2 separate regions of the Homo sapiens genome follow, and region 1 is linked to region 2. A link means that fine-mapping ties the variant in region 2 to the plasma level of a protein whose gene starts in the linked region. Region 2 holds a variant in brackets. A gene starts in the other region. All regions are shown on their forward strands.

Region 1 (2,841 bases), not on the chromosome of region 2:
TAAAGCCTTGGGCCATATCGAGTAAGGTCAGGAAGAGGGCGCAGATGGGAAGCAGGTGGGCTGCCATGGCACGGGACTGGTCGAGGACAACCTGGCCAGGGGAGGCAGAGCTGAGAACAGGTTGCAAAGTCTCCGATTCCCCCACTGCTCAGGGCTGGGGGGCTGAGCCCTTGCGCATTAATCCACCGCTGCTCTGGTTTCTGTTAAACATTGACCTGCAGGGCTCCAGGAGGGCAGGGGAGACGCATGGAGGGGAGCATGGCCACTGGAGGGCACATCCGAGTTGCCTCTCAGACCAGGCCTCTGCCATCTCCCACAGGACTTGCTCTAGCCTAAGCTCGCCCACCCCTGCTTCCCCATGAGCCACTGAGGCCATGACATATGTTCTGGGAAGAGTGGCTGACAGCCAGGCCCTCAGCCCCCAGGCTGACCCGACCAAGGGGGGGAGGCCTTCCTGTCTCTTCCACCAGAAATCCTGGCAGCCACTGGAGGAAGATCCAATGGCCTCAGTGACCAAGGACAGGTCAACCCAGCCCTCCTGTACACCCGCCAGTCTGCCCGCTCGTCCCTGCTGACCTTGGGGCTGAAGGGCCTTATCCTCCAAATTTCCTGACCCCAGGATGGGGGCCTAAGCAGGGCCTGGCCAGATTCCACCCCAGCTGCACCAGAGACTCCTGGAGGAAGGAGCCGCTGCTGGAAATTCTGAGCTTTTGTAGGGGGTCACCCCACCCAGGCCAGGGGCGGGCCAAGGGGCGGGCCTTGGATTAGGAGGCCAGGCCAGCCAGGCATCAGGGCTACCTCTGAATCCCTGGCAAAGGGATCTTGGTTGGGGGTGGGGCTGGGCCAACAGTGGCCCCTCCCACGCTGTCAGCACTAGGGCAGGGCTTTGTGGCCTTACCTAGGCTGGAGGAGGTGGGCAGGGGCAGACCCTGCTGGGCAGGCCTGTTTGTGACACTGGAGACCGGGTTCTTTCGTGTCTTGTGCTCAGGGAGTGTTCTTTGTCCACGTGGCTGCATCTGACATTGATGGGCCCTAGGCACTTTACTTTCGTGGATCTTTTCCTCCTTAAAAAAAATATTTTAAAATATGGCCAGGCATGCCAGGTGCGGAGGCTCACGCCTATAATCCTAGCACTTTGGGAAGCCGAGGTGGCAGATCACGAGGTCAGGAGATCGAGACCATCCCGGCTAACATGGTGAAACCCCTTCTCTACTAAAAATACAAAAAATTAGCCGGGCGTGGTGGCAGGCGCCTGTAATCCCAGCTACTCGGGAGGCTGAGGCAGGACAATCCCTTGAACCCGGGAGGCAGAGGTTGCAGTGAGCCAAGACTGCTCCACTGTGCTACTATACTCCAGCCTGGGTGACAGAGAGCGACTCCATCTCAAAAAAAAAAAAAAAAAAAAAAATATATATATATATATATATATATATATATATATATATATATGGCTATAGTCTTAGCACTTTGGGAGGCTGAGGTGGGAGAATTGCTTGAGCCCAGGAGTTCGAGACCAGCCTAGGCAATGTAGCAAGACCCCATCTCTACAAAAAAATTAAAAATTAGCTGGGCATGGTGGTATGTACCTGTAGTCCCAGCTACTTGGGACACTGAGGCAGGAGGAGTGCTTGAGCCCAGGAGGTCATGTCTGGGTTACACTATTATATATTAATTATTAATATATTTACATTTATATTCTTCTTCTGATTAAAAAAACATTTTGTGGGCCCCTGAAAGTACTGTGGCCCTAGGCCTTGGGTCTATTGTGCTTAGTGGATAAGTCATCCCTGTTGTAGGGACCTGTTTCTGAAAGGCACTGTGTTCATGAAGTCAGGGCTGTGTCATCACCCTTTGTATATGTGCTGGGTTAGTGACTGTGTCTTTGTGAAGCCCCATTTAGTGACCATCTGAGCCTCTGCACAAATTCCAGTGGCAAGTAGGTGTGAGTGTGGAACCCAGTGCCTGGGACTGGGTGTGTGTGAGCCCTGCTGTCTTGTGAGCATGAGATCCTGTGTTTGTGTGACCATGCATATGAGCTGTCAGTGAGCACATGCTTGTTCATTCATTTGTGGTTTCACTTGTTCAATATGTGAAAGGAAAATATCTTGGGCCCCTTCAAGCTGGGAACCGCTCAGGACAAATCTGCCTCCCATTCTATTCAAGTCATCCTTTTGCTTACAGACATAGATGCATATTATGATTGCCTCCATTGCCTCTTTTGGAAAGACTACCAGAAACTCAAAAGAATGCAACCATCTGTCTGTCACCTGCCTGTGACCTGGAAGCCCCCAGTGGGGGGCCGTGCTTTGAGCTGTCTCCACCTCTCTGGACAGAGCTTATGTACTTCTGTTTTTTTTTTATTTTTATTTTTTGAGACGGAGTCTCGCTCTGTCGCCCAGGCTGGAGTGCAGTGGTGCGATCTCAGCTCACTGCAAGCTCTGCCCCCCGGGTTCATGCCATTCTCCTGCCTCAGCCTCCCGAGTAGCTGGGACTACAGGCGCCCGCCACCACGCCTGGCTAATTTTTTGTATTTTTAGTAGAGACGAGGTTTCACCGTGTTAGCCAGGATGGTCTCGATCTCCTGACCTTGTGATCTGCCTGCCTCAGCTTCCCAAAGTGCTGGGATTACAGGTGTGAGCCACCGCGCCTGGCCTAATTTTTTTTTAGATGAAGTCTCACTCTGTCGCCCAGGCTGGAGTGCAATGGCATGATCTCGGCTCACTGCAACCTCTGGCTCCCGGGTTCAAGCGATTCTCCTGCCTCAGCCTCCAGAGTAGCTGGGACTACAGGCGCGTGCCACCACACCCAGCTAATTTTTATATGTTTAGTAGAGACAGGGTT
Region 2 (2,912 bases):
TGGAGAAGTATTTAGTCTAGGGCTAACTATTCCACACTGTTGATGAAAGTCCCTTCTGTGTTACCCAGTGCCCTGAGAATCATAAGGTTTTTCTGTCTGGCTGGTAAAAATAGGCACCAATCCCACCATGTGTAAGTTCCAGACACAGTTACCTTTAATCCTTTCAGGTGATCTTTCCCTGGCAACCCAGGCAGTTTCTTCACACACATACAATGATCAGTACTCAGCTGAGTACTAGGGGGGGACCAATTGCAGATATCTGGAATTATGTCTCTCTGCATCACTCTCCCTTCCAATGCTCTGTCCCTCAAACTCCAGCTGCCTCAGTCTTCCCACATGTCTAGCTCTGTCTGCTTATTTAAGGGAGTCTGCTAGGCTCTGTTCAGATTCCCCATCCCAGTGCTGGGGCCTGGAAACTCTTTCAGGCAGTGAGTTGGAGCAATCATATGTTTCATCTCAATGTCTTCTTTCAGTGACCAGTGTCCTTTGTTGCCTTATGTCCCATGTCTTAAAAAATTTAATTCCACATTCTTGTCAATTTTTGGAGTTATTTTAAGTGGGAAGGTAAATCTGGTCTCTGCTATCTAATCTTGGCCAGCAGTTGGAGTCTCTGAGGAGTGTTTTAAAACATGGACTTTCTTCATTAGCCTTGTCACCAAACCTGAAGACTAAGTTACATGTAGCTCCTAAGTAGACCTTTTCTTCTCTCAACATAGTAATCCATTAATTTTTTACTTTTATCACTTGACATCTATGATTATTCTGATATTTTCCTGTCTTTATTAAATCAATTTGCTCTTTAGCAGGGGGCCAGTTGAGTGGATTCTACCTTTAATTGAAAAGATATTATTGTGGCCATTTTGAGAAGAAAAAAATTACTCTCTTTTTTGGAAGAACATCAATGTTTCACTTCCATTTAATATGTGGGATTGAAAATCTATTCAGTGTACTGTCCTGAGTTGAAAGAGTTCACCTGTCACTAGAGAGTGGGAAATTATCCACTGGTTTAACTGAGCTCCCAGTTTTTCTCACTTTGTCTTTCTTGAATATTTCCCTCCATTTCTGAGAAGATAAAATATTATTTTATCATACATTTGTTGTGACAGAATGACATAAAAGAAAAAGCATCAGAGTGGGACTCAGGAGAGCTGATTCCTATACCCAGTTTTGCCCATAATTAACCATTTAACCTTGGGCAAGCTAACAAACTTCTCTAAGTCTCACATTCTTAATCTGTAAAATAAGGTTGACCACTAATTTCTAACATTCTAGGACATATCAATGACTTTTGGGACCTATGGTTCAGAGTACAGATTTTTAAGAACACATACAAAAGAATAAGTCTTTTGACACACCATGAAGGTGAA[C/T]TAATTCCTTGGATGAAGATGAATTAATTCCTTGGACGATGTGAAGATACCCACATGGTCAGCACCCTACTCAAGAGGCAAACAGGAAATTTGCCTCTTTCCAGGCAGTTTTTACTCCATTTCTCTTGAACTTTATACAAATGTAATCATACAGTGCATTTGCTTTTGGGCCTGGCTTTGTTCACTGAATGCAATCCTGCTGTTGTATGTATTAATAGTGCTTTCTTTTAAAAATTGCTGTTAGTGTTCCTTTGTGTGAACATACAATGATCTATTTACCTATTTACCAGTCTATCAGCTTTTGGGTTGTTTCTAGCTTTTGGCTATCATGGTTATGAACATTCTTTTGTGTATCTTTTGGTGGACATATGTACTCATTTCTCTTGGGTAAATACTCAGGGATGCAATTGCCAGGTCATAGGGAAGGTTCACGTTTGGCTTTAGTAAATGCTGGCCTGGGCCTGATTTGAGGTTTTAAGTAGCTTTGGCATTCTCATTTTCCAAGAAAAGAATCACTTTGAAGGAATCACAGAAGCAGAGGGTTAGAAAGTAAGACCTAAAGAAGAGAAGGACAGAGTGATTCTGTTTAGGCTTAATGTATGCTTGCTTGTTAGATGATGACAGGTGAGAGGTCTAGGTCAGATGGGTAGGAGGGATCGAACTTGTGGAAAGCATAGGCTTGGATCCCCAGAGAGAGCCCGGGACATAAGCAGGGGCTGTGGCAGTGCTGAGTGCATCTGAGAAGTCCTTGTATAAGTTGAGGGGTGTGACTGTGCGAGGACAGAGATGTGGGTGGATGCAGGGGATAGCCACACAGGCCCTGTTTAGTCTCCCAGGAGGAGAGTGATATGGTTTGGTTGTGTCCCCACCCAAATCTCATCTTGAATTGTAGCTCCCATAATTCCCACATGTTGTGGGAGGGACCCAGTGGAAGATAATTGAATCATGGGGCAGTTTTCCCCATACTATTCTCATGGTAGTGAATAAGTCTCACAAGATCTGATGGTTTTATAAGGGGTTTCCTCTTTCACTTGGCTCTCATTTTCTCTTGCCTGCCGCCACATAAGATGTGCTTTTGCCTTCTGCCATGATTGTGAGGCCTCCCATGCCATGTGCAATTGGCCACATGCGTCCATTAAACCTCTTTTTCTTTATAAATTACCCAGTCTCAAGTATGTCTTTATAAGCAGTGTGAAAATGGACTAACACAGAAAGATATGGGGAATGGAGTTCAAGTCAGAAACTGGAGCCACATTTCAGGGTCCACAGCCGGGAGGCTGCCTCACACAGAACAGCTGGCTGCTCTGAGTTCTGCCTTGGTTTTCTATGGGGTATAGAAGTTAGGCAGCTTTAATATGCAAAGGTGCAGGGTCTGTCCATCAGTATTTTTTGAAAGCCAAGGATGCTTAAAAGAAGAGGAAGAGAGATCACAGCACTCTCCACTAGCTGAGAACAGTGTGAAGGCAGCCATGTGCAAGCCAGGAAGAGAGCTCTCACCAAAACCTGACCATACTGGCAACCTCATTTCGGACTTGTAGCCTCCAG

Which allele goes with the higher level. Positions count from the first base shown, and alleles are read on the strand shown. Strength reflects both the effect of a copy and how common the allele is.
For the plasma level of the protein whose gene starts at base 685 in region 1, allele T in region 2 goes with a lower level than allele C (weak association).

What was found. PIP is the chance, under the fine-mapping model, that this variant and not a neighbour inherited with it causes the effect. The UK Biobank Pharma Proteomics Project read protein levels with antibody pairs (Olink). The fine-mapping took linkage between variants from a reference panel, not from the people measured, so its PIPs are less certain.
Region 1: it holds the start of HYAL1, and the variant in region 2 is fine-mapped to the plasma level of the HYAL1 protein (UK Biobank, PIP 0.99).

Annotation. Positions count from the first base shown.
Region 1 is chr3:50,302,890-50,305,730 of GRCh38, forward strand. It overlaps HYAL1 (hyaluronidase 1), which reads right to left and starts at 685. Exons shown (of 4, transcript NM_033159.4): 1 at 577-685; 2 at 1-91. The coding sequence starts at 67. RefSeq lists enhancers at 169-1,103, 921-1,090.
Region 2 is chr12:58,157,162-58,160,073 of GRCh38, forward strand. No RefSeq gene overlaps it. Among named protein-coding and RNA genes, the nearest start is that of LINC02403, 71 kb to the left of the region's middle. The variant C/T (reference allele first, on the strand shown) is at 1,368.